Homo sapiens: one gene and its partners. The protein of the gene in region 3 purifies or fractionates together with the protein of the main gene of each other region. This does not show direct contact. Each region holds a gene or a part of one and is shown on either strand. Other genes may lie near its edges. The genes, in order: UGGT2, DNAJC3 and ERN2.

What was found.
Region 1: the proteins of ERN2 (region 3) and UGGT2 purify together in Homo sapiens (affinity purification with mass spectrometry; one large-scale study listed by BioGRID and IntAct). This does not show direct contact.
Region 2: the proteins of ERN2 (region 3) and DNAJC3 purify together in Homo sapiens (affinity purification with mass spectrometry; one large-scale study listed by BioGRID and IntAct). This does not show direct contact.

What each region holds. Positions count from the first base shown.
Region 1 is NC_000013.11:96,046,769-96,050,418, reverse strand, and holds part of UGGT2 (UDP-glucose:glycoprotein glucosyltransferase 2 precursor), read left to right. Parts: intron 1-3,650. UniProt on the Homo sapiens protein: Recognizes glycoproteins with minor folding defects. Reglucosylates single N-glycans near the misfolded part of the protein, thus providing quality control for protein folding in the endoplasmic reticulum.
Region 2 is NC_000013.11:95,683,515-95,687,164, forward strand, and holds part of DNAJC3 (dnaJ homolog subfamily C member 3 precursor), read left to right. Parts: intron 1-3,650. UniProt on the Homo sapiens protein: Involved in the unfolded protein response (UPR) during endoplasmic reticulum (ER) stress.
Region 3 is NC_000016.10:23,692,886-23,696,241, forward strand, and holds part of ERN2 (serine/threonine-protein kinase/endoribonuclease IRE2 isoform a precursor), read right to left. Parts: intron 3,094-3,356; coding exon 3,009-3,093; exon of another isoform or gene 2,846-3,008; intron 2,505-2,845; coding exon 2,315-2,504; intron 2,234-2,314; coding exon 2,134-2,233; intron 2,043-2,133; coding exon 1,843-2,042; intron 1-1,842. UniProt on the Homo sapiens protein: Induces translational repression through 28S ribosomal RNA cleavage in response to ER stress. Pro-apoptotic. Appears to play no role in the unfolded-protein response, unlike closely related proteins.

The DNA of each region.
Region 1 (3,650 bases), on a different chromosome or scaffold from region 3:
CATGCCTATGTCCTGAATGGTATTGCCTAGGTTTTCTTCTAGAGTTTTTATGGTTTTAGATCTAACATTTAAGTCTTTAGTCCATCTTGAATTAATTTTTGTATAAGGTGTAAGGAAGGGATCCAGTTTCAGCTTTCTACATATGGCTAGCCAGTTTTTCCAGCACCATTTATTAAATAGGGAATCCTTTCCCCATTTCTTGTTTTTGTCAGATTTGTCAAAGATCAGATGGTTGTAGATGTGTGGTATTATTTCTGAGGGCTCTGCTCTGTTCCATTGGTCTATATCTCTATTTTGGCACCAGTACCATGGTGTTTTGGTTACTGTAGCCTTATAGTATAGTTTGAAGTCAGGTAGCGTGATGCCTCCAGCTTTGTTCTTTTTGCTTAGGATTGTCTTGGCAATGCGAGCTCTCTTTTGTATCCATATGAACTTTAAAGTAGTTTTTTCCAATTTTGTGAAGAAAGTCATTGGTAGCTTGATGGGGATGGCATTGAATCTATAAATTACCTTGGGCAGTATGGCCGTTTTCACGATACTGATTCTTCCTATCCATGAGCATGGAATATTCTTCCATTTGTTTGTGTCCTCTTTTATTTTTTTGAGCAGTGGTTTGTAGTTCTCTTTGAAGAGGTCCTTCACATCCCTTGTAAGTTGGATTCCTAGGTATTTTATTCTCTTTGAAGCAATTGTGAATGGGAGTTCACTCATGATTTGGCCCTCTGTTTGTCTGTTATTGGCATAGAGCAATGCTTGTGATTTTTGTACATTGATTTTGTATCCTGAGACTTTGCTGAAGTTGCTTATCAGCTTAAGGAGATTTTGGGCTGAGATGATGGGGTTTTCTAAATATACAATCATATCATCTGCCAACAGGGACAATTTGACTTCCTCTTTTCCTAATTGAATACCCTTTATTTCTTTCTCCTGCCTGATTGCCCTGGCCAGAACTTCCAACACTGTGTTGAATAGGAGTGGTGAGAGAGGGCATCCTTGTCTTGTGCCAGTTTTCAAAGGGAATGCTTCCAGATTTTGCCCATTCAGTATGATATTGGCTGCAGATTTGTCATAAATAGCTCTTATTATTTTGAGATATGTCCCATCAATACCTAATTTGAGAGTTTTTAGCATGAAGGGCTGTTGAATTTTGTCAAAGGCCTTTTCTGCATCTATTAAGATAATCATGTGGTTTTTGTCTTTGGTTCTGTTTATATGATGAATTATGTTTATTGATTTGCATATGTTGAAACAGCCTTGCATCCCAGGGATGAAGCCCACTTGATCATGGTGGATAAGCTTTTTGAGATGCTGCTGGATTTGGTTTGCCAGTATTTTATTGAGGTTTTTGCATTGATGTTCATCAGGGATATTGGTCTAAAATTCTCTTTTTTTGTTGTGTCTCTGCCAGGCTTTGGTATCAGGATGATGCTGGCCTTATAAAATGAGTTAGGGAGGATTCCCTTTTTTTGTATCAATTGGAATAGTTTAAGAAAGAATGGTACCAGCTCCTCTTTGTACCTTTGGTACAATTTGGCTGTGAATCTGTCTGGTCCTGGACTTTTTTTGTTTGGTAGGCTATTATTGCCTCAATTTCAGAGCCTGTTATTGGTGTATTCAGGGATTCAACTTCTTCCTGGTTTAGTCTTGGGAGGGTGTATGTGTACAGGAATTTATCCATTTCTTCTAGATTTTCTAGTTTATTTGCGTAGAGGTGTTTATAGTATTCTCTGATGGTAGTTTGGATTTCTGTGGGATTGGTAGTGATATCCCCTTTATCATTTTTTATTGCATCTATTTGATTCTTCTCTTTTCTTCTTTATTAGTCTTGCTAGCGGTCTATCAATTTTGTTGATCTTTTCAAAAAACCAGCTCCTGAATTCATTGATATTTTTTTGAATGGTTTTCTTGTGTCTCTATCTCCTTCAGTTTTGCTCTGATCTTAGTTATTTCTTGCCTTCTGCTAGCTTTTGAATGTGGTTGCTCCTGCTTCTCTAGTTCTTTTAATTTGATGTTAGGGTGTCAATTTTAGATCTTTCCTGCTTTCTCTTGTGGACATTTAGTGCTATAAATTTCCCTCTACACACTGCTTTAAATGTGTCCCAGAGATTCTGGTATGTTGTGTCTTTGTTCTTATTGGTTTCAAAGAACAGCTTTATTTCTGCCTTCATTTTGTTATGTACCCAGTAGTCATTCAGGAGCAGGTTGTTCAGTTTTCATGTAGTTGAGTGGTTATGAGTGAATTTCTTAATCTTGAGTTCTAGTTTGATTGCTGTTGTCTGAGAGACAGTATGTTATAATTTCTCTTCTTTTACATTTGCTGAGGAGTCCTTTACTTGCAACTATGTGGTCAATTTTGGAATAAGTGCGGTGTGGTGCTGAGAAGAACGTATATTCTGTTGATTTGGGGTGGAGAGTTCTGTAGATGTCTATTAGGTCTGCTTGGTGCAGAGCTGAGTTCAATTCCTGGATATCCTTGTTAACTTTCTGTCTCGTTGATCTGTCTAATGTTGACAGTGGGGTGTTAAAGTCTCCCATTATTATTGTGTGGGAGTCTAAATCTCTTTCTAGGTCTCTAAGGACTTGCTTTATGAATCTAGTTGCTCCTGTATTGGGTGCATATGTATTTAGGATAGTTAGCTCTTCTTGTTGAATTAATCCCTTTACCATTATGTAATGGCCTTCTTTGTCTCTTCTGATCTTTGTTGGTTTAAAGTCTGTTTTATCAGAGACTAGGATTGCAACCCCTGCTTTTTTTTGTTTCCCATTTGCTTGGTAGATCTTCCTCCATCCCTTTATTTTGAGCCTATGTGTGTCTCTCTCACATAGCAAGGAGCTGCGTTCCTTTGGAGGAGAAGAGGCACTCTGATTTTTAGAATTTGCAGCTTTTCTGCTCTGGTTTCTCCCCATCTTTGTGGTTTTATCTACCTTTGGTCTTTGATGATGGTGACGTACAGATGGGATTTTGGTGTGGATGTCCTTTCTGTTTGTTAGTTTTACTTCTAACAGTCAGGACCCTCAGCTGCAGGTCTGTTGGAGTTTGCTGGAGGTCCACTCCAGACCCTGTTTGCCTGGGTATCTACAGCAGAGGCTGCAGAACAGCAAATATTGCAGAACGGCAAATGTTGCTGTCTTATTGTTCCTCTGGAAGCTTCGTCTCAGAGGGGCACCCGGCTGTATGAGGTGTCAGTCGGCCCCTACTGGGAAGTGCCTCCCCATTAGGCTACTTGGGGTTCAGGGATCCACTTGAGGAGGCAGTCTGTCTGTTCTCAGATCTCAAACTCCGTGCTGGGAGAAGCACCACTCTCTTCAAAGCTGTCAGACAGGGACATATAAGTGTGCAGAAGTTTCTGCTGCCTTTTGTTCAGTTATGCCCTGACCCCCAGAGGTGGAGTCTACAGAGGCAGGCAGGCCTCCTGGAGCTGTGGTGGGCTCCACCCAGTTCAAGCTTCCAGACTGCTTTGTTTACCTACTCAAACCTCAGCAATGGCGGGTGCCCCTCCCCCAGCCTCACTGCTGCCTTGCGGTTGGATCTCAGACTGCTGTGCTAGCAATGAGGGAGGCTCCGTGGACATGGGACTCTTCAAGCCATGCGCAGGATATAATCTCCTGGTGTGCCGTTTGCTAAGACCGTTGGAAAAGCGCAGTATTAG
Region 2 (3,650 bases), on a different chromosome or scaffold from region 3:
ATGTGCCTACTTCTCCTTTACCTTTTGCCATGATTGTAAATTTCCTGAGGCCTCCCCAGCCATGCTTCATGTACAACCTACAGAACCGTCAGCCAATTAAACCTCTTTTCTTTATAAATTACCCAGTTCCGGCTGGGCACTGTGGCTCACGCCTGTAATCCCAGCACTTTGGGAGGCCGAGGTGGATGGATCACGAGGTCAGGAGTTCAAGATCAGCCTGGGCAAGATGGTGAAACCCCGTCTCTACTAAAAATACAAAAAAAAAAAAACTTAGCCTGTTGTGGAGGTGGGCGCCTGAAATCCCAGCTACTTGGGAGGCTGAGGCAGAGAATTGCTTAAACCTGGGAGGCAGAGGATGAAGTGAGCCGAGATTGCACCACTGCACTCCAGCCTGGGTGACAGAGCAAAACTCCATCTCAAAAAAAAAAAAAAAAAAATTACCCAGTTCCGGGTATTTCTTTATAGCAATGTGAGAATGGACTAATACAGAAAATTGGTACTGGGAGTGGGGCATTGCTATAAAGATACCTGAAATTGTAGAAGGAAGCAACTTTGGAATGGGGTAATGGGCAGAGGTTGGGACAGTTTGGAGGACTCAGAGGAAGACAGGAAGAGGAACGAAAGTTTGAAACCTCCTAGAGACTTGTTGAATGGTTGTGACCAAAATGCTGATAGTGGTATAGACAGTGAAGTTCAGGCTGAGGAGGGCTCAGAATGACCGCAGATGAGGAACTTATTGGGAACTGGAGTAAAGGCCACTCTTGCTATGCTTTAGTAAAGAGACTGGTGGCATTGTACCCCTGGTCTATGGATCTGTGGAACTTTGAACTTGAGAGAGGTGATTTAGGGTATCTGGTGGAAGAAACTTCTAAGCAGCAAAGTGTTCAAGATGTGACCTGGCCTCTAGCAGCCAGTGCTCATATTCATGAACAAAGAAATGATGTAAAATTGGAACTTACATTTAAAAGGGAAACAGAGCAGAAGAGTTGGAAAATTTTCAGTCTGACCATGTGGTAGAAAAGAAAAACCCATTTATAGGGGAGTAATTCAAGCAGACTGCATGAATTTGCATAAGTAAAGAGGAGCCAAGTGCTGATAGCCAAGACAATGGGAAAAAGGGCTCCAAGGCATCTCAGCGACCTTTAAGGCAGCTCCTTCTATCATAGGCCCAGAGACCTAGGAGGGAAGAACAGTTTCCTGGGCCAGGGCCCTGCCAGCCTCAGGACACTGCTGCCTGCATCCTAGTTACTCCAGCTCCAGCCATGGCTGAAAGGGGCCCAGATATAGCTCAGGCCTTCAGACGGTGCCAGCCCAAACCCTTGGAAGATTCCACATGCTGTTAAGCCTGCAGGTGCTGAAAGCCAAGAATTGAGGCTTGGGAGCCTCAGCCTAGATTTCAGATATATGGAAAAGCCTGGATGTTCAGGCAGAAGGTTGCTGCAGGGGCAGAGCCCTCATGGAAAAATCTCTACTAGGGCAGTGCAGAGGGGAAATGTGGGGTTGGAGCCCCCAACAGAGTCCCCACTGGGGCACTGCCTAGTGGAGCTGTGAGAAAGACCACCATCTTTCAGACCCCAGAATGGTAGATCCGCTGACAGCTTGCACCATGCACCTGGAAAAGCTGCAGCCACTCATTGCCAGCCCTTGACAGCAGCCGCGTGGGCTGAGCCCTGCAAAGTCACAGGAGTGGCACTGCCCAAGGCCTTGGGAGCTCACCCCTTGCTGCAATATGCCCTGGATGTGAGACATGGAGTCAAAGGAGATTATTTTGGAGCTTTAAGATTTAATAACTGCCCTGCTGGGTTTTAGCACGTGCATGGGGCCCGTAGCCTTTTTCTTTTGGCCGGTTTTACCCTTTTGGAATGGGACTATTTACCCAATGCCTATAATCCCATTGTATCTTGGAAGTAATTAACTTGTTTTTGATTTTATAGGCTTATAGGTGGAAGGGACTTGGCTTGTCCCAGATGAGACTTTGGACTTTTGAGTTAATGCTGGAATGAGTTAAGACTTTGGGGGCTGTTGAGAAGGGATGATTGTATTTTGTAATGTGAGAACATGATATTTTGGAGGAGCTGGGGCGGAATGATATGGTTTGGATCTGTGCCCCACCCAAATCTTATGTTGAATTGTAATCCCTAATGTTGGAGTTGGGGCTTGGTGGTAGGTTTTTTGTTTTTTTTTAGAAATCTCCATATTGTTTTCCATAGTGGTTGAACTAATTTACATTGCTGCCACCCATATATGTGTTACAATTTCTTCACCTCCATGCTAACATCTATTTTTTTTTAAGCTTTTTAGTAATAGCCACTCAGACTTGTGTAAGATGATTGATATTTCATTGTGGTTTTAATTTGCATTTCTCTGATGATTAGTGATGAACATTTTTTCATGTTTGTTGGCTGCTTGTATGTCTTCTTTTGAGAAATGTCTCTTAATGTCCTTTGCCCACTTTTTTTTTTTTTGAGACAGAGTCTTGCTCTGTCGCCCAGGCTGGAATGCAGTGGCACGATCTTGGCTCACTGCAAGCTCCGCCTCCCAGGTTCACGCCATTCTCCTGCCTCAGCCTCCTAAGCAGCTGGGACTACAGGTGCCTGCCACCATGCCCGGCTAATTTTTTGTATTTTTAGTAGAGACAGGGTTTCACTGTGCTAGCCAGAATGGTCTTGATCTCCCGACCTTGTGAGCCACCCGCCTTGGCCTCCCAAAGTGCTGGGATTACAGGCGTGAGCCAGTGCGCCTGGCCCTTTGCCCACTTTTTAATGGGGTTCTTTGTTTTCTTCTTGTTGAGTTGTTTGAGTGTCTTGTAGATTCTGGATATTAGTCCTTTGTCGGAGGCATAATTTGCAAATGTTTTCTCTCATTCTGTAGTTTGTCTCTTTGCCCTGTTGATTATCTTTTGATGTGCAGAAGCTTTTTAGTTAAGTCCCATTTGTTTATTTTTGGTTTTGTTGCATTTGTGTTTGGGGTCTTCGTCATAAGTTGTTTGCCTAGGCCAATGTCCAAAATGTTTAATCTATCTTGAGGTAGTTTTTGTATATGCTGGGAGACAGAGATCCAGTTTCTTCTGCATATGGCTAGCCAATTTTCCCAGCACCATTTATTGAATTAGGGTGTCCTTTCCCTGTTGTTTATATTTGTCAGCTTTGTCAAAGATCAATCTGTTGGATGTAAGTATGTGGTTTTATTTCTGGGGTTCTCTATTGTAGTCCATTGATCTGTGTGCGTATTTTTGTACCAGTACCATGCCATTTTAGTTACTATAGCCTTGTAGTATAATTTGAAGTCAAGTAATGTGATGCCTCTGGATTTGTTCTTTTTGGTTAGGATTACTTTGGCTATTCATGCCCTTTTTTGGTGCTGTATGGACTTTAGAATTGTTTTTCCTAGTTCTCTGAAAAATGACATTGGTGATTTGATAGGAATTGTGTTGAATCTACAGATTACTATGGGCAGTATGGTTATTTTAATGATAGTCTCCAAATCCATGAGCCTGGGATGTTTTTGTGTTTATTTATGACATATATGATTTGTTTCATAAGTGTTTTGTAGTTCTCATGGAGATCTTTCACCTCCTTGGTCAGTGTTTTCCTAGGTATTTTATTTTTTTGCATATGGCTTTTGTAAATGGGATTGAATTCTTGATTTGG
Region 3 (3,356 bases):
ATTTTTAAATTGTTTGTAGAGATGGGTCTTCTTATGTTACCCAGCCCGATCTTGAACTTTTGGCCTCAAGCGATTCTGATTTTTTTTTTTTTTAAAGAAAATCCAGAAATCCAAATTTTATGTGGAATTTCTCAAATGTTAAAATATTGGGCCAGGCATGTGGCTGACACCTTGTAATCCCAGCACTTTGGGAGGCCAGGAGTTCAAGACCAGCGTGGGCAACATGGTGAGACCCTGCCTCTACAAAAAAATACAAAAATTAGCTGGGTGCCATGTTGTGTGCCTGTAGTCCCAGCTACTTGGGAGGCTGAGGTGAGAGGATCCCTTGAGCCCAGGAGTTTAAGGCTGCAGTAAGCTGTGATGGTATGACTGCACTCCATGACAGAGCAAGACCCTGTCTCAAAAATATATATATATAGGGCCAAGCACAGTGGCTCATGCCTATAATCTCAGCACTTTGGGAGGCCGAGGTAGGTGAATCACCTGAGGGCTGGGAGTTCGAGACCAGCCTGGCCAACATGGCATAAACCCCATCTCTACTAAAAATACAAAAATTAACTGGGCATGGTGGCACCTGCCTATAGTCCCAGCTACTAGGGAGGCTGAGGCAGGAGAATCACTTGAACCCAGGAGGTGGAGGTTGCAGTGAGCTGAGATCATGTCACTGCACTCCAGCTTGGGCAACAAGAGCGAAACTCCATCTCAAAAAAAAAAAAATATATATATATATAGGCCACTAATTTAAATATAAACTGTATAGTCTCATGACATCATGCATTTAGTCCTTGAGCCCTGCTCACCACTTTGAGCTTTCTCTCAACTTTAGGAGTGGGGGCAGCCTTCCCTGGTGACTGTCCTTTTGTGTGATTGGCATCCATTTCTCTGGCTTCAACTTCCGCCCACACACTGTGACTCAAAATCCGTAATTCAGGGGTCCCAAACGCAAGTGTCTGTGTGGGTCAGACGCTGCTCTGTGTATCAACTAATTAGCTCATCTGATGCCCTCCAAAACCTTCGATACCAGTGGTTCTGGAACTTGGCTCCACATAAAAATGACCCAGGCAATTAGGTAAAAATCACGGGGTGTGGGGCCTGGGGTTTTGTTTGTTTGTTTGTTTTTTGTTTTTTGAGAGAAAGAGTCTCACTCTGTTGTCCAGGCTAGAGTGCAGTAGTGTGATCTTGACTCTGGAACTTCCACCTCCCAGGCTCAAGCGATCCTCCCACCTCAGCCTCCCAAGTAGCTGGGACCACAGATGCACACACCCACACCGGCTAAATTGTGTGTGCTTTTGGTAGAGACGAGGTCTCCCTAGGTTACCCAGGCTGGTCTCGAACTCCTGAGCTCAAGCAATCTGCCTGCCTCGGCCTCTCAAAGTGCTGGGATTACAGGCGTGAGCCACCGCACCCGGCAATGGGCATTCTTTTTTTAAGTTGCGCAGTGGTTGTGAAGCACAGTGAAGATTACAAACCATTTTCTAGCTCAGGGTTTCCCAACCTCAGCACAACTGGCATTTTGTTAGTTCTTTGTGTTGGGTGTTGTCCTGTCCTGTAAGACATTTAGCAGCATTTCCAGCAGATGCCAGTAGCCCCTCCCTCCCAAGTCATGGCAGTCAAAAATGTCTCCAGACATTGCCTAATGTCCCCTGGGTGGCAAAACAGTCCTGATACTGCTGTAGAAGGAGGGACAAATTATCCCTTCTTTAAGGGAAACAAGCTTGGAGGAGCAGCTCAAAGTCACACAGCAAGTGTCATGGAGTCTCCTCAGGAGGGGAACTGGGACAGGGACGGATTCCTGCAGCCTGGGGCAGCTGTGTGCCTGGAGGACTTGGTGGATAGACTCACAGGACTGTCTGGTGGCAGGAGCTGCAGAAGCTCGGGCGCCATCCAGCCTTCCGTGCCGGGGATGCCGGAGTGGAGGCTGAAGCTACAGCGGCCAGCAGGCAGCTTCTTGCAGAGGCCGAAGTCTGAGAGCACCACTCTGCCCAGGCCCTGGCTGTCAGGCCCGGTGATGAGAATATTTCCTGGCTTCAGGTCCCGGTGCACTGTGGGAGAGGGGCAGAAAGAAAGCTGGTTGCTGAGGGCGGAAGGCAGGGGCTAAGGACAGGGAGCGGGAGGCAGGGGAAGTGCGGGTACCTATGTGTAAAGAGTGCAGGTGGGCCAGGCCAGACATCAGCTGCTGCAGCACGACCTCGGGCTCCAGACCCCCGCGATCCAGGTCCGGGTTTTCTACGTACTGAGCAGCAGCAAGGGCCAAAGCATCACTCTCCAGCCCGGACCTTCCCACTCACCCTCCCTGAACCGCAATGCAACTCACCTCCTGCAAGGAGGCCCGGCAGAGCTCCAGGGCAATGTAGTGGAACTGGGGTCCCCGCTCGGTGCAGAAGTAGCGGAGCACGTTGGGGTGCCTGTCAGACTCCTGCAGCAGTTGAACTTCCCGCCGAACCAGGCCAAAGCACTCGCGGAGGAGCCGCTTGACAGCCACTGCCCGTCCCTCAAACTGTCCCCTGGAAAGTGGGTGATGGCGGGGGCAGGGGGGCATTCAGGGAAAGCAGATAAAGGGACAAACATGGTGGCTCACACCTGTAATCCTAGCACTTTGGGAGGCCAAGGCGGGCGGGTCACTTGAGGTCAGGAGTTCGAGACCAGCCTGGCCAACATGGTGAAACCCCCATCTCTACTAAAAAAAATATAAAAATTAGCCGGGCATGGTGATACACACCTGTAATCCCAGCTACTGGGAAGGCTGAGGCCCGGAATTGCTTGAACCTGGGAAGCGGAGGTTGCAGTGAGCTGAGATTGCACCACTGCCCTCCAGCCTGGGCAACAGAGCAAGACTCAAAAAAAAAAAAAAAAAAAAAAAAACAGATAAAGGAAAGAGCAGGACTGGCGAGTGAGGGATCAACCTGTACCCACCTCGGGGAGTCTTTGAAAGAATGTCTCTCCAGGGGACAGTGCCCACGAGGGCTGTGAGTGCCATGTCCCCAGCTTGGCTCCTGGCTGCCACTCACCGGAAAACGAAAGTCCCGCCTGCCCCGCGGCCCAGCACGTCCTTGGGATTGAAGGAAATCTTCCCCACTACGGTGAGTTGCTCAGCTGGGGGAGAGGAGGGTGGTGACTCAGGGAGCCTCTGCCCACCTTTGCCGGCCACTGGCCCAGTCCAGACTCACCTTGACATTTTCTGGGCCTCCACCCTCCCATGCTCAGCCTGGTGCAGTGGGTAAGAGCAAGGGCCCAAGTGCCAGACTGTCTGGATCCAATGCCTGGTGCTGCCACTGATTCTTTGTCTACTTAGGCAAATTCCTCACTTCTGTGCCCTCGGTATTCTCATCTGTAGAGTGGGGAGCTAAAGCTAAAGA